4 linked regions of the Homo sapiens genome follow. The protein of the gene in region 2 interacts with the protein of the main gene of each other region in a biochemical or structural test. Each region holds a gene or a part of one and is shown on either strand. Other genes may lie near its edges. The genes, in order: SLC2A1, GIPC1, RGS19 and LRP2.

Region 1 (7,565 bases), on a different chromosome or scaffold from region 2:
CCTACTTCCTATTCAGCTAAGCTCATTACTGTGAGTTACAGAGGAGCACAATGGAACACGGGGAAGTTAGTTAAGTCAGTTCCCATTTCCTAGGAGACAAAGAGGAACATAGCAGAACCAAGGCTTTGGAGCCAGACACACCTGGTTTTCAGATCTTGTGTGAAAGGCAAGCGATATGACCTCCCCAGGCCTCTAACATCATGCACAAAAAGGCTGTGCTTGCAGGTCAAATCAGCAGTCTCCAAAGGGAAGGGCTTTATTCCAGAATGTATATGGAATGATCTACACAAGATTTGGAGGGGAAAATGACTATAACTGCTGTCTTGTATCTATCTGTCTTTTGAAATTTCTATTTTATGAAGGCATATCATCTGTTAGTATCAAACTGCATGTGCATGAATTTAAAAATACAGCCGGGCGTGGTGGCTCACGCCTGTAATCCCAGGCCTGTAATCCCAGCACTTTGGGAGGCCGAGGCGGGCAGATCATCTGAGGTCGGGAGTTCGAGACCAGCCTGACCAACATGGAGAAACCCCGTCTCTACTAAAACTACAAAAAAAAAAAAAAAAAAAAAAAAAACATTAGCTGGGTGTGGTGGCACATGCCTGTAATTCCAGCTACTCGGGAGGCTGAGGCAGAAGAAACGCTTGAACCCGGGAGGCAGAGGTTGCAGGGAGTTGAGATCGCGCCATTGCACTCCAGCCTGGGCAACAAAAGCGAAACTCCGTCTCAAAAAATAAATAAATAAAAATAAAAAAATAAAAATACAGATACACCACTGTGAAAGAGGTGTTCCAACATTAATTACTGACGAGGTAGACAGTGGAAAACTTGGAGAACACTCCATGAAGAGCACCCACCTGCTACACTATTTAGAACCAGCTGGCACAAGGGGCCACCTTTGAAGATAGGCAAACTCTCTCCCTTCTGCCCAAAATTCAAGAAATGTTGTGGTGAAGAGAGACAGTGGAGACAGAAATGAAATTAAATCTGATGGGCCTGGGTTCAAATCCAGTTCAACCACTTACTAGCTGTGTGACTTTGGCAAACTTATTTCCCTTCTCTGAGCTCCAGGCTAGTGAGTAACCAGCAGGGCTATAAGGTCCGTGACGCTTAAAGTAGTTTGGCTAAGAACCTGCTGATTTTCTCCTCCACTTTTCTGTCTCCACGTAGTATTCCCTTATCCACTCAACAAATAAATACCCATGTCTGGCATAGTATGCTGAATAGATAGTTCCTTCCCTAGAGGAAGTGACAAAAGTGATCTCTTTCAGATGGAAAAACTGAGGCCCAGAAGTTAAGTGGCCTGCAAGAGCCCTGAGATATTTGGACTTCCTTGCCACTAGCTAGAAGAGCTTCTCACTGAACTTTTGTTTAGTTATATCCCACCCTTACGGCTCACCTAAGATCCTGGGAGCCTTCCCCGGGAACTTCCCCGGGGTCTCACCTCAAGCGAGGGCCCAGGAAGGGTGAACCAAGTCGTCTGGATTTATGGATTCAACAGGTGTGGGGCGGAAGGCCTTTTCCTGCCGAGGGTGCGGCCCAGCGCCACCCCGCTCAGTCTCAGCGGGACACCTCCACAGCCAGTAGGAAGGGCAGTTCAAAATTCAGTGCTACCCCCGCGTCCCAGCTAAGAAAACAAGGGCCATCCAGGTGCCCTCCCAGCTGACGAGATGGAAAAATCAAAGTATAATAGATAAAGAGGGACCGTTTCAAAAGAAAAAGGGGACTTGAAAATATTGTAGACTAGGGGGAGGAAAGGAGGTGGAAAGAAACAATGCCCTACACACAGGAGGGGCTCCACAAACAATTTGTTGAAAAGAAATCGCTCTGCGGACGCTACAAAGATGCCCTGCAGGACAAGCCCACTTACACAGAAAAAAAGAAATCCTATCTAGGGAGTTGTTGGTCCCCAGAGTCCCCATCCCTCATTCCCCAACCCCGTGGCGTGCGCGCTTCCCGCTAGACTTCAGCCTGGGGCTCTTTCCTGGCCCCCAGATCCCCCGCCCCTCCGGTTGCGCTCCCCGCCTGGCCCCGAGGGTAAACCTGCCTCCGCGGAACACATCTCCGCGAGACTGGGCCAAAGCTTTGGGGCCTGCACTCCTCGCAAAGGAGAGCCTCCGAGACCGGAGGTTCATCTCAACCCCCGCGTTCGAGCCCGGGCCTGGAGAAAAGTGCCCTCCCCTCGGCCTCGGCCTCGTCACCGCGGGGGACTGGCGGGAGGAGTAGGGGAGGCCGGTGGGACACCTCGCACCAGGCCGCCCACCTACAGGGGCGTCCGGGCTAGGGGAGCAGACGGAGAGCGGGGGCGGCTCCTGACTCCTCCGCGCGCCGGGGCCGGGGCCGGGCCGGGGGCTCGGCCCGCTCAGCCAATGGGCGCCGCGCTCGGGCCCCCTCCCCCGCACCGGGAGGGGCCGAGGCTGGGCTGCTGCTGCCGAGGTCGTGTGCGACGTGCCGCTCCCGGGCCCTGTGTCCCCAGCCCCAGCAGGGCCGCGTGGACGGCGCGGCGCCCCCGGAAGGAGGCCATGTGCTCAGTGCCGGCGCCAACTACGCACGCGGCGCCCTCCGGCCCGCTAGATCCGAAGCCCATCCCCACTGCGGCCAGCGGCCCGGCGGGGCGCTGCGCTCGGGACCCGCACCGAGCCAGGCTCGGAGAGGCGCGCGGCCCGCCCCGGGCGCACAGCGCAGCGGGGCGGCGGGGGAGGCCCTGGCCGGCGTAAGGCGGGCAGGAGTCTGCGCCTTTGTTCCTGGCGGGAGGGCCCGCGGGCGCGCGACTCACCTTGCTGCTGGGCTCCATGGCAGCGCTGCGCTGGTGGCTCTGGCTGCGCCGGGTACGCGGGTGGCGACGGGCGTGCGAGCGGCGCTCTCCCGCTCAGGCTCGTGCTCCGGTCCGGGGACTCCCACTGCGACTCTGACTCCGACCCCCGTCGTTTGGTCTCCTGCTCCCTGGCGTGCTCACTCGGGGACCCGCGACTAGCGACCGGCACGCTCGCTGTTGCTACCTCTTGCCTCTTGCCAGAGAGCGCGCGGACCGTAGCGTTTATAGGACCCCGGCCATTGGCTGGCGACGCCGGTGTGTCAGGGGTGTGTGGGCAGGACCTCGGGGCGGGGCCTGGGGCCCAGCCTGTCCTGGGCGGCGCTCTGCGGGGAGGGGGTGAGGGGAGTGGCCGGGGCCGGGGCCCCCCCTAACCACTGCCTCGCTCAGGCTGCCGATCGGCTCGTTCTCTCTGCGTTGGGACCGCGGAGGGCATTCGCTGTGTGACTCAGGGCAAGTGTGCGCACCTCTCTGAGCCTCCGCGGCCTTCTCTAGCAAAATGGTGGAGCCGGTACCCGGCTGTAAGGCAAGCTGGGATGCGCGGAGTAGCGGGTGGAAAGCTGGACTGGAGTTCTCACTCGGCCGCTGGGTGACTTCGGTGCACTAGGGATAGTAACAGTACCACCTCGTAGGGTTGTAGAAAGACCAAGTGAGTTAATATTTGTAAAGTGTTTAGAACAGCGTCTACTGCATGGAAAGTAGTATTTATTTGTTAGAGAGACTCCAGGAGGTCTTGCCCAGGGATTGACTTCTCCCTTCCCTGTCTCCACCCCCCACATTCCCGTTTGTGAGCCAAGCCTTGCTTTTGCACCGGCCGGGCTCTCTTGCCTGGAAATGCATACCCATCTCAAACCTGGGCTTTAAAATCACCTCCTCTGGGACGCCTTCCTCTACTTCTCACAGTTCAGGTGAGTCTATGGTGACCTGTAAGTGTGGAAAATATGAAAGGCAGGCTAACTGACTGACATGATAGGACATTAAGGACATGATAGACCTCGGGTTTGAACCAGCTCAACTGTATACTGGCCCGGCCGCGATCCTGGGCGAGTTCCTGGCCAGTGAGGCTGTTTTCGTTTTTTTCTTTAATTTTTTTTTTTCTCAGACAGAGTCTCGCTCTGTCGCCCAGGCTGGAGTGCAGCGGCACGATCTCGGCTCACTGTAACCTCCGCCTCCCGGATTCAAGCAGTTCTCTGCCTCAGCCTCCCGAGTAGCTGGGATTACAGGCGCCCGCTATCACCCCTGGCTAATTATTTTTATTTTTAGTAGAGACGGGGTTTCACCATTTTGGCCAGGCTGGTCTTGAACTCTTGACCTCGTGATCCACCCACCTCGCCTCCCAAAGTACTGGGATTACAGGCGTGAGCCACTGAGCCCGGCCGAGGCTGTCTTCTTATGAGTAAATGGAATTCCCACACCAATCTCATTGCTATCAGGAGAGGTGCAATTTCCAGATAAGCTCATGAAGTGTTTAGCATGGAAGTTCTCATTTACTGGTTGGTGGTATTGTTGGTTTATTTATTTAGTCTGTTAGTAAATAAATAAATGCTGGTCTCAAACTCCTGGGCTCAAGTGATCCTCCCACCTTAGCCTCCGTAGTAGCTGGGAGTGCAGGCATGTGCCACTGCACTGGTAGTGGTATTGCTATCATCTGACTTCACCTTATTTCCTCTAGACCAGTGCCTTACTTGAGACACAGTGAAGGGAAGGACCCCCAGTCCAAAGGTCTGATCAAAGTCTTGAGGGTCCCTTTCCCGATGGAGGGAGTCATGGTGGGCTTACTGTCTGTCGGAAACCGGGAGGCTGAGCCGACCAGATGACCCCTGGAGTTCTCTGGCAATGTGTCCAGTTCTGGCTGAGGGGCACCTTGGTTGAGTATGGAGCCCTGAAACAGAAGGCAGGTGCATTCTGGGCACCCCCCTGCCCAAGGCTTCAATTCCTGTGGTCTCTCTATGCTCAGCCTGGAAAGCTTGGGCCACCTCTCTCCTCACCCCTGGACAGACCAAGTCCTGCTGACTCCGCTGTCTACACCACCTCATCCTCCTTCCCTCCCCTGCTGTCTGCAGGGCCTCCATCTCCTCTGGTCTTTTGTCCTCCAGTCCTGCACCCTGCCACTCTCCTGCTCATCTGTCTGAAATTGTCATGGAGGGAGTAAGGGCCAAGCCTGGCCATCACGGTCCTTCTTCATGGCACCAGTTTACACGCTCAGCCTCGCCCCTCACACCAGCAACTCACATCCACACATTTGCTCAGCTTGTCTCCTCTGCCTGGGAAGCCCTCCCCGACCTCACCATGCCAAAAAGCACCATGGGTCCTTCCTCCTCCGGGAAGTGTCCCTGGTTCTCCCAAGTGGAAATCTTTCTCTCCTTTACCATTTGGTGTTTTGTAGGTTGCCACTTGTCCTCTGTCTGCCTTCCCTCAGCCTGTGAGCACCTTGAGGACAGGTTCTGCAGCTGAGGCACGTGGGTGAATGACTGAAGGAGGGAAGGAATGCACGAATGAGTGAGCAGCTAATCTACCTGTGTTGAATGTTCCTTCCCCTCCAGTCCGTCCTGCTGATACTTCCAGTCTTTCCTTAAGTACCTTTTGGGTTTTGCTACTTCCCTCCTCAAAGTCTCTCCACAGCTCCTTGTTTCTTAGCACATCCAGTCTATGCCTTTTCCCAGTTGCGGGTCTGCCTTACTCAGCCCATGGGTCACACTCACCAAACAGCCACCTTGTCCTTCTCTGGGCCAGCCCCATGCTGGCCACTTTCCCAGGGACAGAGACATGTGACCCCATTGTTAGCCTCATGGAGGCCCCAAGCTGGAGGAGGAGCAAGAGGGGAAATGAGCAGCAACAATACCAAGTCAAGCGTAGAGGGTTAAGAATCTGTACAGGTGCAGAACTTGTACCACAGGGGAAGGAGAGTGAGTAGAGAGAGCATCTGGGAAGGGGGAGGTCATGCTAAGCAGGGTTTGGAAGACTGAATAGGAGTTCACCAGATGGATTGAGGGAAGGCCATTCTCAGCAGAGAGAAGAGCATGTGCAAAGGCAGCAGACTGCCAGAATGATTACCTAGGGAACGTGAGAATCTCTGGGCCACTCTTAGAGATTCATGATGGAGCCCCAGATCCGGACTCTTTGAGTCCCAGCTCTGCTATTTACTTGCAAACATTCATGGGCAAACAATGCCTTCTCTTCTCTGAGCCTGAAGACCCACATCTGTAAAATAGATATAACAAACCCTTCCTGGGTAGGCCTGAGGGAAAGTGGATGTTTATAAAGGCTTAGCTATGTAAACTGTACTCATTCTTGACGTGAGAAGTTCAGTCAAATCCCCATCCCATGGTAGGGCGGTGCTTGAGGAAAAAGCACAGTGGCCAAAAAAAAGCTTTTCCTTCACCCACCCCACCCCACCTGCCCACACACAGACCCCCATTACCTTCTCTGTGTTCCTCTCTGTGAATGTTTTATGACCCCTGGAGGCTACTGGTCAGAAGCAAATTCATCAGAAGCTATTGACGCTGCATCACAGACTAGATTCTCAGGTGGACTGGTTTGTTATTTGGGTGGCTGATTCCTTGGAAGCAGAATTTAACTCCAACTAGGGAATGAGCCCTAGAGAAGGCCCCAGGAAATAGCACATGAGCAGAGAAGGTTTGGGTGCAAGGGGAAAGGGGAGCAGGAGGGGCACCTAAGTAGCCCCTGTGGCTGGGGCATGGGGGCTTAGGGAGGAGAAGAGACTGAAGAAGTGGAATCACAGAGGCTCCCAAATGCCAGGTATAGGAGTTAGGGCTTTATGCAGTGGGTAGTGGCGAGCCATGGAGAGTTATTGAGCAGGGAAAGGACCTGAGGAAACCTCAGTGTCCCCACAAGCCTACTCTACCTGAGGCACTAAAGGGGGTGTGAGGAGGCTGTGGAACCCCAGCATTCAGCTTGAACGACCTAGTGCCCCTTCCCTAGTCTGCGCCCACACTGACAGCTTTATTCCCTGGAGGCTGCCTTTAGTCCTGGACGGAACTCGGCCTCTTCTGGGTCCGATTCTAAGCAGTTCCAGCCCCAGCTAGTCTGGAGGAAAAGAGCTCTCTGGGACTGGCTAGCAGGGAGGTGTCAGGTGCCAGGCGGATGCTGGAGCCTAGTGTGTGCCTCAGAGCACGCAAGTGGGTGGGGGAGGGGTGGTGGTGGTGATGGTGGTGGTGGCAGGGCCGTGCAGGGCGGGTCCTAGCAGCTCCAGAGTTAGGAGTGAGTAAGGCGGGCTGGGAAAAGACTCTGTTGCCTTTAAAGGCAAGCGTCCCTGGCAGCCAGGAGGAAAGGTTTTGCTGAGTCAGCTACAATTGGTACAAGAGGGGATAGCAGGGGCTGGGACGGAAGCCCCCCTAATCCAAAGGGTGTTTTGCAATTCAAATCCTCCTGGATTGCAGGTAAACACAGTGATGGATTCCAGGAAGGTCTGATGGGCCAGGCAGGACAGTTTTGTGTGTTTAATGTTTTCATTCTGATTTGCACATCTGCTTGAACCACCTGCTTTCAGAAAGCTTTTCGGCATCCCTTCTTTATCTTCTGTATGCCCTCCGACCCTCTGCAAATGCACTTATCAGGGCTACCACCTGCTCGCTGATGCTGGGGGAATTGAAGGCACATACTCCCCTCCCTTCTCTCCTGACTACCAGGCTTTTCTGTCCAGCTGCCTCCAGGATGTCCCTCTGGATGTCCCACAGGTCCCTCACACTCACCATGCTCAAACCTGAACTCATTATCTTTGCCCATCCCT
Region 2 (7,842 bases):
CCTGTAATCCCAGCTACTCGGGAGGCTGGGGCAGGAGAATTGCTTGAGCTCAGGAGGCAGAGGTTGCCGTGAGCCGTGATCACGCCACTGCACTCCAGCCTGGGCGACAGAGCAAGATTCTGTCTCAAAATAAATAAATAAATAAATAAATAAAATAACAAAACCAAAAAACGTAGAATGAAGAAATGAAAATGGGGCCAGGCGCAGTGACTCACGCCTGTAATCCCAGCACTTTGGGAGGCCAAAGTGGGCAGATCACGAGGTCAGGAGATCAAGACCATCCTGGCTAACACGGTGAAGCCCCGTCTCTACTAAAAATACAAAAAATTAGCCATACATGGTGGCGGGCGCCTCTAGTCCCAGCTACTCGGGAGGCTGAGGCAGGAGAATGGCATGAACCTGGGAGGCAGAGCTTGCAGTGAGCCAAGATCGTGCCACTGCACTCCAGCCTGGGAGACAGAGCGAGACTCCGTCTCAAAAAAAAAAAAAAAAAAGGAAACTGTGGAAGAGTCAGGTGCGGTGGCTCACTCATGCCTGCAATCCCAGCACTCTGGGAGGCCAAAGCGTGCGGATTACTTGAGGCCAGGAGTTCAAAACCAGTCTGGACAACATGGTGAAACCCGGTCTTCACTAAAAAATACAAAAAATTAGCTAGGCATGGTGACACATGCCTCTAATCCCAGCTACTCGGGAGGCTGAGGCGTGAGAATCGCTTGAGCCTGCGAGGTGGAGGTTGCAGTGAGTTGAGATCACATCACTGCACTCCAGCATGGGTGACAGAGTGAGACTCTGTTTCAAAAAAAAAATAAAGAAAATGTGGAAGTATAAGTTTGCCATATAGGGATGAAAAGGCCTTCTTTTGTTTTGTTTTGGGAGATAGGGTCTTGCTCAGTCACCCAGGCTAGAATGCAGTGGTGTGATCATAGCTTACTGTAGGCTTGAACTCCTGGGCTCAAGTGATCCTCCCACCTCAGCCTCCTGAGTAGCTGGGACTATAGTCCAGTGCCTCCTTTTCTGGCTAATTTTTATTATTTTTTGTAGAGACAGGGTCTCATTATGTTACCCAGGCTGGTCTTGAACTCCTGGTGTCAAGCAATCCACCTGCCTCAGCCTCCCAAAGTGCTGGGATTACAGGCATGAGCTAGTGTGCCCAGCCAAGCATTCTTAATATAACTTCACAGTGAGTTCTATTATATCAAAATTAAGAATTTCCCTCCAATGAAGGATATCATGGGTGAAGCAAATTTTCCCCTGACAGAGTGGGAGGACAAATATACAATGTGTAAAACTGCACCTAGGTCATCAGGAGAGTTACATGGTTTAATAAATAGGAAGTTCTTGGAATGATGCCTGGCACATAGGAAGCTGTAGCTCATAGCTCACTGTAGCCTCGACTCCTGGGCTCAAGTGATCCTCCTGCCTCAGCCTCCCGAGTAGCTGGGACTACAGGCACACAGCACCACACCCATTTTTGTAGAGATGGAGGTCTTGCTATGTTGCCTCGGCTAGTCTCGAACTCCTGCCCTCAAGGGATCCTTTCAGCCTCAGCCTCCAAGTCACTGGGATTAGAGGCTGCAGCCACTGCACTCAGCAAAACAATGATGTTCTAACGCACACAACCTTCCCTTCTGCATGTGTTAGCTGGCATTCAAGGATGGAATTTTTTTCTTTTTTCTGTTTTTTCTTTTTCTTTTTTTTTTTTTTTTTTTGAGACGGAGTCTCGTTCTGTTGCCCAGGCTGGAGGGCAGTGGCGCAATCTCGGCTCACTGCCAGCTCCGCCTCCCGGGTTCACACCATTCTCCTGCCTCAGCCTCCTGAGTAGCTGGGACTACAGGCGCCCACCATCACACCCAGCTAATTTTTGTATTTTTAGTAGAGACGAGGTTTCACCATGTTGGCCAGGCTGGTCTCGAACTCCTGACCTTGTGATCCGCCCGCCTCACCCTCCCAATGTGTTGGGATTACAGGCGTGAGCCATTGCACCCGGCCTCTTTTTTCTTTTAAAGGAACAGAGGTAGCGCTCACATCTAAGCTGCTCACCATTGGACTTCCCAGCCTCAGCTTTTAGGCATTCCTCTTGAGCTATAAAATCGGGAAGGAGGGCTGGGCATGGTGGCTCACACCTGTAATCCCAGCACTTTTGGGAGGCCAAAGAGGGAGGATGGCTTGAGCCCAGGAGTTCAAGACCAGCTCTGTGCAACATGGTGAGACCCTGTCTCTATCAAAAAACAAACAAATGGGCCTGGCACAGTGACTCATGCCTGTAATCCCAGCATTTTGAGAGGATGAGGCAGTTGGATCACTTGAGGCCAGGAGTTCGAGACCGGCCTGGCCAACAGGATGAAACCCTGTCTCTACTAAAAATACAAAACTAGCCAGATGTGGTGGCGGGTGCCTGTAATCCCAGCTAATCAGGAGGTTGAGGCAGGAGAATCGCTTGAACCTGGGAGGTGGAGGTTGCAGTGAGCCGAGATTGCGCCATTGCACTCCAGCCTGGGCAACAAGAGTGGAACTCTGTCTCAAAACAAACAAACAGACAAACAAAGGAATAGACTGCGTGCAGTGGCTCATGCCTGTAATCCCAGCATTTCAGGAGGACGAGGCAGGTGGATCACTTGAGGCCAGGAGTTCGAGACCAGCCTGGCCAACATGGCGAAACCCCGTCTCTTTTAAAAATACAAAAAATTTAGCCGAGCATGATGGCGCACGCTGTAATCCCAGCTACTCAGGAGACTGAGGCGTGAGAATTGCTCGAACCTGAGAAGCGGAGGTTGCAGTAAGCTGAGATTGCACCACTGCACTGCAGCCTGGGTGACAGAGTGAGGCTCCGTCTCAAAAAAACAAACAAACAAACAACAACAACAACAAAAATTAGCCAGGTGTGGTGGTACATGCCTGTGGTCCCAGCTACTCGGTAGGCTAAGATGGGAGGATTACTTGAGCCTAGGAGGTGGAGGTTGCAGTGAGCTGAGATCCTGCCACTGCATTCCAGCCTGGCCAACGGAGCTAGACACTGTCTCAAAAAAAAAAAAAAAAAAATTCAGAAAGGAGGTGCCCAGTGCTGCTCTGTGTCTTGAGCAATCCCACAATCCCATCACCCCTTCTCCGGGCACTTCCTCATCAGGAAACAGGAGCCAGTTGGAGTCTGGCTCAGGACTCTGCAGCCTCAGTCATGCTGTCCCCTGGGCTCAGCATCCCGTCCTCTCCAAGTGTGCAGGGGGCAGCTTAGATGCCAGGCTCAAGCAGGGCAGGCAGCACAGTCCCACAGAGGGTACTGGCCAGCCCAGGCAACTGATTGCTCAGTGGGATGGCAGAGGTCAGCAGAACAGGAAGGGACGGACAATAGCTGTGCCTGTTGCCTGGCCTGCCACAGCAATCTCGGTGTTTGCCAGCTGGGTGGGGCTGGCTAGGCAATCCTCAGCAGCAAAGCTCAAGGTTCCATCTCCCATTTTAGTTTGCCCCTCTGCAGGTCCTGGTGGGACTGATATGCACAACATCTCACCCTGGGAACTGCAAAGAACCAGTCTTTCTATGGAGCTTGAGCAGGGTCTCAGCACTTAGAGGCTTCCAGGAACTACAGTTCCCAGAACACACAGCATTCAGCCCCAGTTGCTGTCCAAGTGGCTGGGTTTGAACTAGAACAAGGAAATCTCACTTGTCCCGGGAACTGAGCGTCCTGGCCTGGTCCAGGTGCATTTGTGACTCTTGTTTCTTGGATCTGTGTCCACCTGATAAATCCCCCTTCCTTATAAACTACATGGTCTATTTGTCCACACAGGTTTGCTGAGAACCTGCCGTGTGGCAGCCTGAGGTGGGAGTGAGGGGTTGACAAGAGAGACTCAGCCTCCACCCTCACAGTCAGATGGAGGAGACAGATCTATGAAAGGCTGGCTGGGTACCTTCTGTGACCTAGCACATAAACAAACCAACAAGCAGATAAACTATCTCACCCTTGTCTTTCATTGCATCTTGCCTTTCCACACTGATTTACTAGCTCCCACGATATTGCAGTATCCTAAAGCGTGCTGTATCTCTCTGTCCGGCTTTTGCACGCTCTGTTACCTCTACCAGGAGCACATTCAGCTTATTCACTGACGCGTCTTCAGAGGTAGGACAGAGTCTGGCACGGAGCAGTCTGGCACATTAAATATTTGATGAGTGAGTGAACGAATGAATGAATGAATGCCTTTGTCCATTGTACAGCCCAGGAAGCAGGGAAACTCGGGACCCTCCCTATTCATCTCGATCCCCCGCCCGCCCCCAGAGATTGAATGCATCTTTTTATCCGCTCCGAGGATGGCCAGGCTGGGGCAGAGGAGGCCGGGCAGGGAACTGGGTTGGGGACTGCCATTGACCCCCACCCAGGTCTCCTAAACTGTCCGCTTTCCTGGACGTCGGAAGTTCGAATCCTTTCCCCGAAACCTGGCCTAGGTCACCTGACTCCCCCGCCCCTCACCACCCAGGGCACCCGAGACTGACACTCAGCCGACAGCACGTGGTTCAGGGGCCCCAGCTTCCTTCCCATTGGCCGCTTGTCTCCTTCCTCCCTCGCGATTGGCCGGGGCCCAGCTGCAGCTCCCCCCCCTCCTCAGCCCTCCGGTGGTACAGCCAGCCGCGGCTTAGGCGGGGCGGAACGGTCCACTGCTTCGCGGCGAGGGGAGGAGTCGGGAAGAGCCGGGCGAGGCGGAGGGATCCCTCTGGAATGTTTCCGTCGGGTCCACCCGAAGCGGAAGACGCGGATTGGCTGCGAGCACCGAGAGGCAGCCGCTGATTGGCCGGCCGCGGGCGTCGGCCCCGCCCCCCAGGCGCCGCTGCGGGAGAGGCCCGGTCTGGAGTTTGCGGAGGGCCGAGCCGGGTGCGCACGGGGAGGCGGAGGCAGCGGCGGCGGCGGCGGCGGCGGCGGCGGCGGCGGAGCAGGTGAGTGGCCTCTGCGAGAAGGATGTGTCTGCTCCGGGGGCCTCGGGGGTCGCGGGCCTGCGAGGATCCGGCCGATCCTGCAGGGTGGGGCCGGCGCCGTGGACGCGACTGGAGGTCTAGGCTGCGCGCGGGGATGCCGGAGGCCCCTTCCCAGGGGAAGCGGGGGTGGGGGGTGGTGGGGGCAGCTCCCTTCCTGCTGGCGGGCAGGGGACAAACGCCTCCCAACGCTGGGCTGGGGTTTCTGGGCTTGCCCCTCCCCCCGTCCCCCGGCTGGACTGTCCCCATCCCAGCGTGGACAGGCGCGGGGTCAGTGTTTCTGACCCTTTCCTGGGCACTTCCCCTGAGCTAACCGCGTCTGAACCCTCCAGGGCCTTGGGGGGGACGCAGTGAGGACCACGGTCTGAATAATAATCGTCATGAAAAACTCCACCTCAGCTAGCATTTATTGGAGAGCTTCCGTGTCAGGCATTTACCATGAGGATAATTGACTCTAAACACCTCATGGGAGGTGCTGTGCCTTCTTGTAAAAAAGGTGAGGCAGCCTACCCAGAGAGGTGGAGTGACTTGCCCAAGGTCACACAGCTAGTAACTGGCACATCTGGGACTGGAACTCATGCCCCAGGGTCCAGAACTGGAGTCACACCCACTAGACTGGATACCAATAACTCCACGGCTCAGTTGTTGCTGAGTAGCTCCGGCCCCCTACCCCTCCCACCCCCTACCCCGTACTCATCATCAGGGCCACACCTGCTGGTCTTTTGCTTTACCAGCCACTCAAACAGGAAGCTGCCCTCCTTTCCCTTCTCCCCAGAGCTGGAGAGGGCAGGTCTAACTACCTGGGTCCAGAGAAGAGAGTGGCGTCTGCAGGGGGCCAGGATGCTGGGGTCTGGGCCCACTGGGTTCCCCCCTGGCAACCTGGGCCGAGGCTGGGAAGTAGGCGTTCTCCCCGGAAACACCCAGGAGCCGGTTTTTCAAGAGTGAATCAGAGGCCTCTTTCCCTCCTTCTCTCCAAAGCAACACTGTGCTGGAACGGGGAGCCTGGGCGTGGTTTCCCCCTTCCCCTAGCTTCTGTGTGCTCCCAGGAACCCCCTTCCCCTCCTCCTGCTGGCCACACTGCTTCTGTGTGGCCGTGGGGTTGCTAAGTTTCAGGCCCTTCCCAGGATGAGGGGGTGAGGATGCTGAAATTCCAGCCCAAACACTCAATATCCGGGCTGAAGTGGCTCTTCATCTCTGTGTTCAGGTGTGAGGGGAGCCAGGGAAAGTGGGGAGCCTAGGACAGTTGGCAACCGCACAGCAGGCATGTTTAGGGGGCTGTTTCAAGGATGGGGAGCACAGAGAGCAATCAGAACGAGGACCTGAGACACATTCATTCACTCAGTCTACAAATATTTAGTGAGCACCTGCTACGTGCATGTGCTAGGCACTGTTCTTGGCACAGAAAATGCAACAGTGAACAAAACAAAATCCCTACTTTTGAGGAGTTGGCACTCTGAAAGGAAGGAAGCAGCCAACAAACAAGTTAGCAAGTAAATAAAGAAGATAATTTCAGATGGCACTAACTGCTATGAATAAAATATGAGCGGGTGGTACTGTAGAGAGTAGTTGTGGGCAAGGGGTGCCAGCCCAGCAAAGATCAGGCAAGGGGGCCCGGGCGCGGTGGCTCACGCCTGTAATCCCAGCACTTTGGGAGGCCGAGGCGGGTGGGTTGCTTGAGGTCAGGAGTTTGAGACCAGCCTGGCCAACATGGGGAAACCCTGTCTCTACTAAAAATACAAAAATTGGCTAGGGGCATGGCTCACCCCTGTAATCCCAGCACTTTGGGAGGCTGAGACAGGTGGGTCAAGAGGTCAGGAGTTTGAGACCAGCCTGATCAACATGGTGAAACCCCCTCTCTCCTAAAAATATGAAAATTAGCTGGGTGTGGTGGCGCACGCCTGTAAGCCCAGCTACTCAGGAGGCTGAGGCAGGAGAATCGCTTGAACCCGGGAGGCGGAGGTTGCAGTGAGCTGAGATCGTGCCACTGCACTCCAGCCTGGGCTACAGAGCGAGACTCCATCTCAAAAAAAAATAAAAATAGGCCAGGCGTGGTGGCTTATGCCTGTAATCCCAGCACTTTGGGAGGCCGAGGCAGGCAGATCACCTGAGGTCAGGAGTTCAAGACCAGCCTGACCAACATGGAGAAACCCTGTCTCTACTAAAAATATAAAATAAGCTGGGCGTGGTGGCACATGCCTGTAATCACAGCTACATGGGAGGCTGAGGCAGGAGAGAATCGCTTGAACCCGGTAGGCAGAGGTTGCGGTGAGCCAAGATCGCGCCATTGCACTCCAACCTGGGCAACAAGAATGAAACTCCGTCTCAAAAATAAATAAATAAATAAAAATAAACAAATACAAAATAAAAATACAAAAATTAGCCGGATGTGGTGGTGCGTGCCTGTAATCCCAGCTACTCAGGAGGCTAGGGCAGAAGAATCGTTTGAACCCAGGAGGTGGAGGTTGCAGTGAGCTGAGATGGCGCCACTGCACTCCAACCTGGGTGACAGAGCAAGACTCCATCTCGAAAAAAAAAAAAGAGAGAGAGATGGGCAAGGCCAAGGTCTTTAGGCTGGACCAAGTTTGGAATCACATGGTTGGAGCAGAAGATGAACCCAGAGCAGCGATTCTGCAGGGGTTTGTGGGTCACAGTAAGGAGATTGCAGTTTTTCTTCCAGAAGGTGGGAAACTGTTGTAAAGTTTCAGGCAGGGCAGTGATGCCATCTGGTTTACGTTTTAAAATAGAGACATGAAGTTAAATGACAGCCTGAAGCTGGAAGACAAGAGTTCTGCCAGGGCAGCATGCAATTAAGTTCATGGGCCTGAGCCATCTGTACCACAGGGGCAGTTCCAGCATGCTGGGGCAAGCCTGGGAGGCTTCATGGAGGAG
Region 3 (6,832 bases), on a different chromosome or scaffold from region 2:
ACTCACCAGGAGCAGCTACAGCAGCAGCACCAGCACAGGCAGCAGGGGTTGCGGCTGGGGGCCGCTGGAGAGGCTGTATCATGACTGGACATTGAAGGGGGCCGGTCCGCCTCCTCTGGCCCTGTGATCTGGGGAAAAGTGGGGCTACCTCAGCTTTCAGGTCAGAACCCACCAGACTCTCCACCTCTCCCCCACCTTCCCATGGGTAGCCCTGTTCCCAGGCACATGACCCTTCTGGCCTCCCGGGTGTTCAGGGATCTCCCAGCTCCTTGTGGCCCCTCAGCTTGCCCCACCCCATCTCCCCCAGGGGAGCAGAGGCAGAGGGGGAGGTGGCATACCTGCTTCTCAGCCTCATGCGGGGTGGGCATGGGTGGGCGGAGGAGGTTGCCCAGGCTCCGTGGTACCAGCTCTCAGACCCTCACCACAGCCTGGGGGTCTGGGGAGAGGGGCCAAGGTTCTGACTGAGAACCTGAAACCCCAGCCCCTGCCTACCCCTTAGGAGGGGTCCTGAGAGGGTGTCTCCCTAGCGGGGCCTGCTCCTGCCTCTGGACCCAGCTCTGCCTAGGGCTTCTACCCCGACCCCAAGCTTACAGCAGGGCTGGGAGGGGGTCCAGGATCATTGAGGAGGGAGCTGCAGCAGCTTCTGGCCCCTCCTCCCAGGCTGGGCCCCAGATGAGGCCCCCACTGGAGGTTCCGAGACACCCCCATCCGCTCACTCCCTGGGAAGCCGGAAGCCTGGGTTCCTCTTTCTTGGTTTCCGGCTCCCAGCCCCTCCCAAAGGGGCCCCGAGAGTCTGGGGCTACCAACTGGTGCGTGCGGGTGGTGGCCAGACTGGCTTCTAGGGTGTCTGGGGTGGGGAGTGGGCAGAGTGGCTTCCCACCAAGAGTCCAGGTCTGTCTGTGGGTCCCAGAGGTCTCAGCCAGGGGCAGCAGGCTAGACCTGCAGCAGTGAGGATTTAAGTGGGACTCAGGCTGGACTTGCTGAGGGTGTGGGAAGGGGGGCAGGGCCCCGGTGAGGAGGGACATGCCCCCCAAACATGGTTCTTTGGTCCTGCTACCTCCCACCCAAGACTTCCCTCCCTCCTTGCCCACTGCCTCTAGGCTGTGAAACTGCTGTGGAACCAAGGCCCTACCACAGGGTGCGCCAGCCAGGGAAGTGGGGGTGGCAGGGGTGGGGGGCACCCTGCTCCCCAGTCGAAGCCTCGGAGTCCCTGAGGGGGGTGTGGTGTGGTGCATGTCCCTCCCAGCATTTGGTTGCACCGTCTGCAGGGGAGGTGCACCAGGAGCGCCAAAGCTGTGAGTGGCCCTCATGCCACCTAAGATGCCACTTCGAATCCCAAGTCTCCTTGGGCGATGGTACAGGGGGGCCAATCAGTGCCCCGGAGGCAGTTGTGAACACCTGCGCCCACTTCTGCCCAGGGCAGGGAGGGGCCTCCGTGCACATCCGCCACCCTCCTCATGTGCCGCCACCCTCCCTGGCCAGGAAGCTCACAACTTGATTCTACTTTATTTTCTCAATCTTCATCCCCCCGCCACGCCTCCCCTAGCTCGTGGCCTTTGAATGCTTGTTTCTGGCTGGTTGGCTTCTCTTGGCCTCCTGGGACGGTGTGTGAATGGCCCTCAGAAGAGACAGTGCTGGAGTTCTGCACTCTTAGGGCCCCCAATACCCCCGAGGCCTGGGCATGCAGAGGCCACTGCCCTGGCCCAAGTCTGGGGCAGGTGCAGCATCCCCTGGGACCTTGGCCCCTCACCACCGGCCCAGTTTCCTCTGAGACTGGGGGTCCCACGGGCTCCTAGCAAGTAGATGAGGAGACCGAAAGTAGCCCTGCAGCTGGGCTTTCTTTCAGGGGTCAAGTTTCTAGGGAAAGGAAGGGGCGTGGCAACCTGAGGTTTGGTAGCTGTACCCAGACGGGGCTGTCTGTGGCTTCCCCAGGCAGCAGTTCTTCCTCCTCTCTGTCCCCACCCAGGGTCCTCCCCCACACTCTAGCACCCCTGAGACTGTCCCCCTGGGCTACCATCTCCACCCCAGCTCTGAACTGGAGGAGGGGACGTGTTTAGGGGTGCAGGGCCGGGGTGCTAGGGGCTGCATTTGCTGCAGAGCAGGGAGCCAGCCCCTTCTTTCCCAGTTGCAGGCCCTGGACCTGGTCACCTGTCCCTGGACCTGGCTTCCTGTACCCTTCTCAGGTCAACTGGGGCAACCCATGTCCCCAGGCTACCCTCCCCCCGTCTCTCCTGGGGGATACAGAGTCTCAACTAGGGTCCTCCTGCTTGTCAACCTGGCATTGGGGACCCCCTTCCCCAGCCTCCCAGGCTTTGGCCCCCAAGTCTGGGATGGGATAGGCTGGATAGGCGGCACGTCTGCTCTCTGGGGATAGAGGATCCCTTGGGAGTGGCTGCCGCTTTGCTCCACAGAAGGAAAAAGAACGTCCCAGAGCCTGCCCAGTCCAAAAAAAGAATAAGAAAATGTGACAATCCCAGAAAAAAATGTCATAACCTTTGGGAGGGGGGTTGAAGAGGGGCTCCATTCTCAGTCCTTAGCTCCTACCCAGGGCCTTTCCCATCTGCCACCCTCCACATCTGGCTGGTGGGCGAGCCCTGGCCTGGCCCCTCCAGGGAAGGCCAGCTCTCCCCACCTCTGAAATGGTGGTGGTGGCCCACCCACCACGCTCCTCTCTCTGCTGTTAGGGTCCAGTCTGGAGAAGCCTGTGTTCTCCTCCAGGTGCCTCTTTCTTCAGCCTCTGACGCCCCCACCCCTACCTCAAAGCTCCCTACTCACCAGCGACCCAAAGGCGGGGTGGGGGCAGGAGGGGCCAGGTTGGGTCTGGGCCCCACCCTGGCTGCCGAAGGGGCGTGCACTGCAGCAGCAGGGACTCAAGTCAGACGGCAGGAGGGACTCCTGCGGCGCTCTGGAGGGAGGCTAGCGCCAGGAGCCCCCGATCGGCTGGGGCCGGGGGCGCAGCGCCTCCCCTACAGCTCGAAGGGCTGAGTGGCTGCCAGATCCAGCGGGGTGGGGGCGGGGGCGGACAGGGTGTCCCGCCCCGGCCCCTCCTCACCGGGCTGAGAGGGGGAGGGAGACGCGGAAACCTGGGTTCTTCCGGCCCCCACCTTTGAGCAATCACTTCCCCAGGCTTTGAGCTCCAGAAAAAGGGGAACCCGGCTGCGGCGCCCCCTCCCCCACGCGCGGGGGGCGGGCTCCACTTCCACTGCGGCCCAGGGTCCACGTGGACCTGGCGGCGGGAGCCCTTGGGGTTCGAGTCCCGTGCGCCGGCTCCCGAAGCTCCCGCCCAGCACGGTCCCCGGGCCCGGGCCGGGAGGGGCAGGGCCGCTGTCCCCGGCGCTGCGCGCGCGCACTCACCAGCCGCGCTCCCGAGCCACTCGCGCCGCCGCCGGCCCGCGCGCTCCAAGGTCCGGCCCGACAGTCGGGGAGGGGGCGCGGGGGCGCAGTGCGCAGGCGCCTCGGCGGCACTTCCCCAAAGCCAGGGGCCGGGACTTCCTCGCGCCGGCGGTCGCCGGGCCCGCCCCGCCCGCCGCGCCCCGCCCCGCGCTCGGCCGGCTCCGCACCCCACCCGCCCCGCCCGCGCGTCGGCCCCCACAGTCGCCTGGGGGTGGCCCGGAGAGTCGAGGTGCTCATAGTGGAGCCCTGGCTCCCGGGCGGACGGAGCCGCACGGTAGTAGATGGGGGTGTGGCCGTGGCCCCCGACTCTGCTCGGCGGGGCCGTTCCTGCTTTGCCATCCGTGTGGGACTTCCACGACAGTGGAGGCACGAGAGCTGGGCCCCATATGCTGCTTGCCCAGCTTGGGAAAGAGGAGGCTGCTGCAAAGGACCGATCGGCGGGTACGCCAGCCCGGCCCACCCCTCGCCTCCGTGAGCCGCGTCTGTAAAACTGGGTTAAGAGCCGCCTGTCTGTGCTGTGGGGGGTTCCCAAGGAAGGGGGAGATTCCTGTGCTGCGGGGCTGGGGAGAACTGGGGGTGCGGGTTCTTGCATCCGGAGTCATGCCGAATGTCTCCTGTGGGGCCTGGCAGAGTCCCTGCTGACCCGTGTGTCCCAAGATGTCCTAAAGCTTAAGGCCACACTGTCCCCTTTGCCACGAACGCCCTGTCCCTTTGGCCGACTCTTCTCATCCTTTATGACTCGGTACAGACGTGGGTTAGGCTTCTCATCGCAGCATGCTTTGGCCCTGTGTCAGGGTGGCCCTGACCCTGCTCTGGAAGTGTCTGCAGAGCATCTGTGCCCCCCGCCCCTCCCCTGGCCCGGCTGTGTGCAGCTCCTGTCCTCCCCAGCACAAGCACTCCACCCGGATAGTTCCCAGTGTCGGGATCTGTTCATAAAATGCCTTCCAGTTGCACAGGTCAGGTGCACACCTTACACCTTCACAGAACTCTGAGGGGTGCAAAGGCAGCTGGAGATTCTACTTGTATTCCTCATTCAACGGACAAGTATCAGTATCTGGGTGCCCCTGTGGGCCAGGCAGTAGGACCAGAAGCCAGCAACATAGATCAGCCTGGATCTTATGCTGGGGGGCGCAGAGTGAGTTGTGGGGAGCAGGCAGGGAAGGCCTGGGTGAGAGGGGGGAGGGCTGAGGAGGGGAGGGTATTGCGCTGCTGAGCGGGGGCGGGGGCCCGAAGGGGGAGGTCAGAGGTCAGAGGGCCCTGGAGGACAGACAGGCTGCCTCTCGAAGCTGTACCCAGAACCCTGTGACTGCCATGTTGTCAGGCCAGGCAAGGAAAGGCAGGGGCCAGGAAGCCCACAGGGACAAGAGGCAGGCTGCTACTTATTCAGCCCACATAACACTCCTGAGCGGTGGGCACAGGTGAGGTCAGGGAAGCTCAACGAAGATGGGCCAGCACCTGGCCCAGGCCACACACAACCAGGCTGACCCCGCTGAGCCGGCCTGTTGTCTCTGCTGTGGGAAAATGCAGCTGTGGGCAGCTGGCAGGGGGTGAAGGTCAGTGCCCTCCCTGCCCCCTCGGGTCACTCTACAACCCCCCAGTCATTCCCCCGTCTCCTCTGGCCCCTTGGGCCTGCTCTCCACCGCCCTGGCTTCTGCCTCTCGGCACACAGCATCCTGAAGTCCATGGGTGGGGCCAGGTGAGCTGGGCAGTTGATGGCGGAGCTGGGATTTGAACCCAGGACCCTCTGCGCCCTGACAGCCCTCAATATATTGGGCTTTGGACCACATGCCTTCCTTCCCATAGAGCTTTCTACAGGCAGGCGTCCCTCCAGGCCCCATTCCCCAGCCTCCTTTGCACATCCAGCACCCCCTGCGCCTTTTCATGGGGATCAAAGGGCCCGAGTGCCGGCCTGACCCTGGTGCAGTCACTGAGGTCACTGTCTTGCTGGCCTTCTCTGGGTGCTGGGTCTGCTGTGCCTGTCTCTGCCCCTCTTCCCTCTTGCCTGTCTGATGCAGAGTGACCCATCCCCTTTGGAGCACTTGCTGCTGTGGGGTACTGCACCAAGACCCTTATTTTAAAGATAAAGAAATGGAGTCTCAGAGAAATGGTGAAATAATATGTGATTCTCCCAGTAGATGAACTCATTCTAGGCACTCAGTCAATCCCCAAGACACAGAATCCTGGGGTCCAGGCTGCAGGGAGTTTGGCCAGACGACACCAGGGCTGGCTGTCATCACATGTCACAAGCACATCAGGGTGTGAGTGGCTGCCACTCCTGGACAGACTGCCTCCCTTCCCTGTCTGTCTGCCCCTGCTCAAGCCCCTTCTCCCTGGCCTCCTTCCTCTCTACCCTTCCCTTCCTGAAACCCCTCCTGCCATCTCTCTGTCCCCTCCTTGTCAGCTGACTTCTGAGCTCTGTATACAGTCTGGGCTTGGGTCAAGGCCAAGGGCAGCAACAGCCCAGAAAGAGTAAAGTGCTCGGTGCACGGGGAGAAGGGCTGGCTGAGGGGCGAGTGCGCAGGGCTCCACCCCCTGGCCGGGGCTGGGGAGAAACACTGGCTGCCATGGAGCAGGATCCCTTCTGGACCCCAGTTCTGACCTCTGCCCCTCCTTCCAGTCAGCTGGAGCCCCCTAGCAGGAGGAGCGGTTTGTCTGAGTTCCTGCGGTCCCGCTTCTGTGCAGCCTGCTGGGCAGGGGGCTGGGAGGGAGGAAAAGGAAGCGGGGGCCTAGGGAAGCCCCAGCGTCTGCAAAGAGCTCACGTCGGGGAGAAAAGTAAGGTCTGCCCAGAAACCTCGGGGCTTTTCAGAGTCCAGGGATTTTGTAGGTCGTGGGCCTGTTTGTCAGAATGGGACAGGGGTGGCTTCCTTTTGTACTGCATGCGTGAGTGTGTGTGGGGTGTGTGTGTGTGGGGGGGTGGGTGTGGGGGTGTGGCATGGGGCATTAAAGGGGTCACAGGAGGCTATTCAGGATGGAAAGGAAGGCCAGAGGGTGGGATTTTTGTCTGGGGGCCGCAGGGGTTCCCCTTGCCCAGTCTCTTGGTCCTCTTGGGCACAGCTGCTGCTTCTTCAAAGGCCAGCTTAGGTCACTTCCGCTGCCCACAGCACTGCCCTCTCCCTGGCCCCCTGGTGGGATGACTCGCACTCGAGACCACTGCAGCCTGAGGCTACCCTTACATCTGGGGGTGACTTCTGCTGAAACAGGCTCTTTCTCCGTCCTCCCCAAGACTGGGGGCCTCCCATAGACCCACAGAACGCCAGGTTGCCAGTGGGGGGCAGATCGGGATTAGGGGTAGGCGTGTCCCTGACCTGTTACTTTCACACCCACCCACTTGCGTCTCCCCACTTTTTTGGGAGAGGCCCCACTCTCTGTACCCTGATGTCTGTGAGGTGCATGGGAGAGGCAGCGTCCATACTCCCCGCTTCCCTCGGGGTCCTGGGGA
Region 4 (7,020 bases), on a different chromosome or scaffold from region 2:
TCACACGTTCCCAAAAATTGGTCCAGCCCTCAGAATCACCTTGAAACTTTTAAAAATACAGATTTTCCACATTTTCTTTATCTAGTCTATCACTGATGGGCATTTGGGTTGGTTGTGGCACATATGCACCATGGAATAATATGCAGCCATAAAAAGGAATGAGTTCATGTCATTTGCAGGGACATGAATGACGCTGGAAGCCATCATTCTCAGCAAACTAACATAGGAACAGAAAACCAAACACCGCATGTTCTCACTCATAAGTGGGAGATGAACAATGAGAACACATGGTCACAGGGGGGGGAACATCACACACAGAGAGGGGAACATCACACACCGGGGCCTGTCAGGGGGTGGGGGCCAAGGGAAGGGAGAGCATTAGGACAAATACCTAATGCATGTGAGCCTTAAAACCTAGATGAAAGGTTGATAGGTACAGCAAACCACCATGGCACATGTATACCTATGTAACAAACCTGCACATTCTGCATATGTATCCCAGAACTGAAAGTAAAATAAAATAAAATTTTTAAAAAACACAGATTTTCATACCCCTGCTTTAGTAAGGGTGAGTTTTGATTTAAGAATCTCTATACTTTTTTAAGTTCCTCAGGTGATTTTGATGATATGTCAAGTTTGGGGAGCTAGCTGACTTTGTCTAGGGTCCTTAGAAATTCTAACAATCTGTAAGTTATTGTGATGAAATAATACTTTTGAGAACATAACTAAAACCTTCTCAAAGTTGGATTCCCCCTGGATAGGATCAAGGAAACACGTAGCCCCATTTGCCCTGGCAGCCATATCAGAATCATATGGGAAGCCAGACCGCACACAAAGGTGAAACTTAGGGGGGAGTAGGGTCAAGGAAAACACAAAGAAAGAGAACTGGAGCCCTGACTGCACCTCGCCTGAACCCCACTCTGCCTCAGTATTTTTTACTCACATAAGCCAAGAAATACCCTTTATTGTGTAGGCCATTTTGAGTTGGGTTTTCTGTTTCTTGCAACAAAAAGTATTCTCCACACCCTTCCCCACATCAAAATTAAACCAGTGTGGAAGTACATGCTAGCATGTATCACCCCCCTTCTAGTGAGATTAAAATGTGGGTAGGATTGCCATATTTCTGATAAAATACTTTCATTCTTAAATTCAACTTTAAGAATTTCCTGACAAAATAAATGATTTCAGCCGGGCATGGTGGCTAGCGCCTATAATCCCAGCACTTTGGGAAGCTGAGGCGGGAGGATCACTTGAGCTCAGGGGTTTGAGGCCAGCCTGAACAACATGGAGAAACCTCATCTCTACAAAAAATATAAAAATTAACTGTGAGTGCTGGTATGTGTCTGTAGTCCCAGCTTCTTGTGGGGTTAAGCGGAGAGGATCTCTTCAGCCTGGGAAGTTGAGGCTGCAGGGAGCCATGCACTCCAGCCTGAGTGATAAAGTGAGACCCTCTCTGGCCTGGGTGATAAAGTAAGACCTTGTCTCAAAAAATAAAAATAAACGATTTTGATTTTTTCAACCTTTACTCAGGAAATTTTCTCCTTGTTAATGACATAAAAACCAAAGAACTGGGCCCAAAGTGACAAGCAAATCACTGACAGTATAAGACAGAATATTTTTATAGAGGAATCCAAGAATGTCCAGCATAACAGAAGTGTAGCTACTTTCCTTTTCGTCTTTTTCAGGTTTCCTCAACACCTTCAAAAGTACACATGCTCTTACTTAATGTGAATCAGTAGATCAGTGAGGAAAGACTTATTTTCAAAGTTACCAGGAATCTTCATGTGTTATTCGCTGATAGTACATAAATTTAAAGGAGACCTTGGATATTGCTTACAAACTTGGATCTCAAGATCTGGACAATAAATGCGCCATTGTATCCATGGTAACAGTGGCTCAACTATTCAATGCACAGAATGGTAATTACATTTCCTCCTTTCATTCATTTCTCACTGTTTCCAGTAACCTTGAGGTCAGGCATGACCTGAGGGCTAATGACCAAAAGTGAAACTTCAAATTGTCTAATCTGTCATTATCTAGGAAAGACTTACATTTCTTTGCACTGAATTTCAGTGCTATCCTAAATCAGAAGTGTCCTAATATAAAAGTTAACCATCTTATTTTTAGAATGATAATGTCTCCATTTTCTCAGCTAATGTGATTAGAGATAAGACTTAAATTAGAGACCAACAAAGTAACCATCAGCAAAGAGTACATATATCTGGCATTTCTGAATTAATCCAATAAGGTGTGATGGATACGTGTTCTACCATTTATGAAAGAAGTCCATAGATGAAGTGCTAAGGACACTCAGATGTGCACCAAGATGTGTTCTGTCTCCACAGAAGCATCTTAACCTGTCTGCAAACTCTTTAAGCTTCTTTCTCTCTACCCCATCCTTATAGCAAAGGACTAGTGCTTGGAAAACAGACAAACTCTTAGGAACATAAACATTGGAGTGAAGTAAATTGGAAAAGGAGTAGGAGCCTAAGATTCACAGAAAAATGAAATACTGCACCAGACTTAAGGGATCCTGTAGTCTGATCGCTCAGCTCATTTTCCAGAACTTTCCTGTCTATCACAAAGCTCTGCTCCAAATAAGAAAACTTTAGGATCCAAATAAACCTTCTAAAAGTCCTTCTTTCTCCTGTTCTCCTTCTAAACTTAAAGTTGCAACATGGTCACATGGGCACAGATCACCATGTCTTTTTTCTTAATGTTTCCAATACTTTATTCCTTTCAATTCTGTAAGTTACCCCAGGGCTGCCAGCTCTTGAGAAATTTCTGTAGCTTTTTCAAGTGTGTCTTCACATACAAAATGAAAATAACATCGTCAGTCAATTTTATCTGATAAGGTATACTGAACACCTGTTATTTTTGCATCCCAGCCTCTGTTCACCATTCTCCCAATAATTACCCCCATTTCTCTCTGGACTCCACCCCTTCATACATGATCTCAAAGACTGAGTATACAGCCCAAGCCTAAGCCATGGGAACACATCATGACCCGGGATTCAGTGGTTGGTTCTCCAATGAGTTTATGACCTAAGTAGAGACCCTGAGATGCAACTGAAACTTTTGCTGGGAATAGCTAAGATAAAAACTCTTTTTCTTTCCCAGTGGATGTGATCTGATAGGAGGTGGCTCCAGAGCCACTGACAGCCGCTTTACATCAAAGGAGAACATGTTTAAGAATGGAGTCATCTCAGAGCCAGGAGACGGAAAAAAGACAAGATTGGCCTGACATAGTTTGAGCCTCCATTTTATATTAGGTTGAACCAAATGAAATTGCCAATATTTGACTATTTCTGCATAGGAAAAAAAATCAATCTCAAATGGATCAACCTAATTATCTGTATCTTTTCAACTATGTATTTATTTTCTTTGAGACAGGGTCTCACTCTGTCGCTGAGGCTGGAGTGCAGTGGCATGATCACAGCTCACTGTAGCCTCGACCTCCTGGGCTCAAGCGATCATCTCACCTCAGCCTCCCAAGTAGCTGGGACCACAAGGGCACACCACCATTCCTGGCTAATTTTTTGTATTTTTTGTAGAGATGGAGTCTCACTATGTTGCCCAGGCTGGTCTCAAACTCCTAGGCTCAAGCAATCCGCTCACCTCAGACTCCCAAAGTGCTGAGATTTATAGGCATGAGCCACCACACCCAGCCTCAACTATGTATTTCAATAACCTTCCTTTTTTGCCTCAGACAGTTTAACTTAGTTTTGTGACATTCACCAACATAACAGTACTGAATAACATGTGAAGTTGTGGTAGCCACTGTAAGGATGTAACAACATGCACAGGTGCATCATTCTCAGACCCACGGTAAAGAAGATACCAAAATACTGCAACATCTTCCTCCTCTCAAGTTTGGAAAAAGTAAAATTCTCGTATTGGGTAATAATGATGAATGGAAATCTATATGAGACTTCACAGTTTATTAAACATTTCACATTCATTGCCTTTGCATAACCACCCCGTGAGGTAGATATATGTCCATTTTACAGATAAGAAAACTGCCCCAGAGCACCCAGCATGTGTGGTACTGGATTTCCCAGATAATAAATGGCAGAGGTAGGAATCAAACCAAGATCCTCCAACTTCAAAATCACAAGCCCTTCCCACTTCATCTCAAAACACTGTAACTGTCAAGAAATTACTTCGGAAACATTTGCATTAGGAACATGTGAAGAACCACAGAAATGCTCTTGACATTTCAAAACAACTACTAGCTGATCATTATCAAGAAGCATCCCAGAACTCGGATGCTGAAACATCTCCAATCTTTCTAATGCTGGTGAGATCCTGGGCAGGGTTATTAGGAATGAGTCAATGACTATTTCAGAATCTTAAATGCAAAACTGCAGTCCATTTTAATTGCGAGATATGTAGACACCTCTTTTCAGTTCTCATCTTCCTTAATGTTTCTGTAGTATTGATACTATTGACTCATCAGCACACTGTTGATATTTAATAAATATTCATGGAAAAAATAAAATAAACATTCACAGAATACACAATAGTGGTAAAAATTTTTAATTACTCAAGACTATAAAGTTAATAGGATACGATAGAACCATTTGATTTATACCAAAGGTTCCATCAAGCTTATTTTTTCCATGCTAGAATAGGGCTTCACAATTAGTATTTTTTTAGTTGCTCTAGATTCGTGCAGTCAACCTTGAGAACCCCTTTCCTATCCATTCAACACTCTTTCATAAGCACCTTCTACTTTCTTTTCTTTTTTTTTTCTTTTTTATTTATTTTTATTTTATTTTATTTTATTTTATTTTATTTTATTTTATTTTATTTTATTTTATTTTTGAGACAGATTCTTGCTCTGTCACCCAGGCTGGAGTGCAGTGGCACAATCTCAGCTCACTGCAATCCCTGCCTCCTGTGTTCAAGCAGTTCTCCTGCCTCAGCCTCCCGAGTAGCTGGGATTACAGGTGTGCGTCACCACGCCCAGCTAATTTTTGTGTTTTAAATAGAAACAGGGTTTCACCATGTTGGCCAGGCAGGTCTCGATCTCCTGACCTCATGATCCTCCCGCCTCAGCATCCCAAAGTGCTGGGATTACAGGCATGAGCCCCCACGCCCAGCTCAGCACCTTCTACTTTCTACTTACCTTGTTCTAGCTACTAGGACTTAACAGAAACTCCAAAGCCAATATGACAATGCACTTGCTTCTGATTACACAGGAAATACATCTAGGTTCCTGGTATCATTATTTTTAAATGATAATTTAAAATTTTAATTTAAATATTTTAAAAACCTTTCAGTGTTCTTACAGTGCCTGACTAGAGAACATGAACAATGATTATGACCTAATAATTACCTTTAGTAAGACTGAAAACCTAGTCTTACAGCAGCCTGCACTACAAAACCCAAAGATCTTCAGGAATGCGCTTTGATGGCTCAAGAATTTGAAAAATGGATCTGGAGGTATGGTCTTTGGGAGTAGGGGCACTGACATGGCATCAGTTCTGGACCAAGCTGAAAGCGCATGGTACATGGTTGTAATAACCTATCACAGGATTCCTCTTTGGCCAGGGACAGGTAACCCATCCAATTGTTTTTAAGATTCATCTGCTTATCAGACTGTGCCTTATCTGGCAAGTCAGGATTCCAAAAGGAATCTAGAAATCTCAACCAACCAAACAGGCTGGGGACATTCAGAAGGCATGAATCTAAAAAATGGTCCACTGCAAATTTATATCTTAGCTCTGTCACAGGCTAGATGTCCTTAGGCAAGAAACCTATTAACCGCCTTCCCTTTCATCCTCTCAGCCCCTTTCTTCTCCCTCCTGGGCTAATTGCTTATCTGTAAGAAAAAAAAAATGCAAGCAGACCAGTTGATATCTAAGGTTCCCTCTAGCTGTAAAAAGTCTGAGTTTCTATTAAAATGAGACAGGTGCATGACTGAAGGGAGTTCAGGCAGAAGTCTTATGAAGACTGGTAAAGAGAAACTTTTTCAAGTAGAGAAAGAGAAGCCAACAACTGTGAAATTAAAGCAGCAGTGAGGTTCCAGAGTTGTGATGGAATAAAAACGATACAAGTTTGCTATTGCCCCCACAATCCTTTTAAACATATAAACTTCATGTGAAGATGTAATTGTCATAAAAGCTGATACTAACTCTTAAAAACATTACCACATTTTTATTGGATTAAAGAATATAATGTTGGACCAGGTAAGGTGGCTCCTGCCTATAATGTCAGCACTTTGGGAAGCAGAGGTAGGAGGATCATTTGAGGCCAAGAGTTCAAGACCAGCCTGGGCAACACAGTGAGACCCCATTTCTATTTTTGAAAAATAAGTTTTTTTAATTAGTAAACAGAATACAACTTTGTTTAAGGCCAATACGATTTTCTCAAAAAAAAAAAAAAAAAAGAAAAAATCTTCCAATCACATGCTAGGGTCTGAGAAGTCTTCAGAGAACTGTTAGTGAAAAATGCTTAAAGAAGACTTTCCTTTGTATATTTGAAAATTGGAAATGGAAATAGGAATAGGAAGCAAAACAATATGTTACTTTAAGGGTTGATAAATATAATAAAAATATTGTATTTTTAGATTATTTTCTAGTTTATTTTCACTGTCTATATGCTTTACACCATGCTAAGCACTTGGCATATTTTATCTCTTTATGCTTACAAGATGTCATTGGGTAAATTCTCTTATTATCTTGTCAATTTTGCAGATAAGCCATCTGAGCTATGCAAAGTTGGTTGACTTTCCCAAGGTCACACAGCTAGAAAGTGGTAAAGCCAATGTTGGAACCCAACAGCTTGACTCGAGTTCAGACTCTGCAAAATGTTTTTTCTTGAAAAGCATTACACAAAAGATAAGGAAAATGCAAATAATTTTTAACAACAGATGTGGTATAATTTTTTTCAAAGACTAAACATAGAATACTCAGAGCTCTTTTTTTTCCCCTCCAATTTTTAGTGATGCGAAGTTTGCAATGGTAGCCTACCTAAAAGGTAGTGCTTAAATAAAGGCTGTTACAATCTCATTGG

Evidence for each region.
Region 1: the proteins of GIPC1 (region 2) and SLC2A1 form a complex in vitro, tested with the Homo sapiens proteins (one study listed by BioGRID).
Region 3: the proteins of GIPC1 (region 2) and RGS19 form a complex in vitro, tested with the Homo sapiens proteins (2 studies listed by BioGRID).
Region 4: the proteins of GIPC1 (region 2) and LRP2 form a complex in vitro, tested with the Homo sapiens proteins (2 studies listed by BioGRID).

The regions. Positions count from the first base shown.
Region 1 is NC_000001.11:42,955,855-42,963,419, forward strand, and holds the start of SLC2A1 (solute carrier family 2, facilitated glucose transporter member 1), read right to left. Parts: upstream 3,015-7,565; 5' UTR 2,798-3,014; coding exon 2,780-2,797; intron 1-2,779. UniProt on the Homo sapiens protein: Facilitative glucose transporter, which is responsible for constitutive or basal glucose uptake. Has a very broad substrate specificity; can transport a wide range of aldoses including both pentoses and hexoses.
Region 2 is NC_000019.10:14,493,112-14,500,953, reverse strand, and holds the start of GIPC1 (PDZ domain-containing protein GIPC1), read left to right. Parts: upstream 1-4,826; 5' UTR 4,827-4,917; intron 4,918-7,842. UniProt on the Homo sapiens protein: May be involved in G protein-linked signaling.
Region 3 is NC_000020.11:64,076,519-64,083,350, forward strand, and holds the start of RGS19 (regulator of G-protein signaling 19), read right to left. Parts: upstream 3,001-6,832; 5' UTR 2,776-3,000; exon of another isoform or gene 2,633-2,775; intron 743-2,632; exon of another isoform or gene 709-742; coding exon of another isoform or gene 592-708; intron 493-591; exon of another isoform or gene 437-492; 5' UTR 369-436; coding exon 339-368; intron 129-338; coding exon 7-128; intron 1-6. UniProt on the Homo sapiens protein: Inhibits signal transduction by increasing the GTPase activity of G protein alpha subunits thereby driving them into their inactive GDP-bound form. Binds to G-alpha subfamily 1 members, with the order G(i)a3 > G(i)a1 > G(o)a >> G(z)a/G(i)a2.
Region 4 is NC_000002.12:169,352,523-169,359,542, forward strand, and holds part of LRP2 (low-density lipoprotein receptor-related protein 2 precursor), read right to left. Parts: intron 1-7,020. UniProt on the Homo sapiens protein: Multiligand endocytic receptor. Acts together with CUBN to mediate endocytosis of high-density lipoproteins. Mediates receptor-mediated uptake of polybasic drugs such as aprotinin, aminoglycosides and polymyxin B.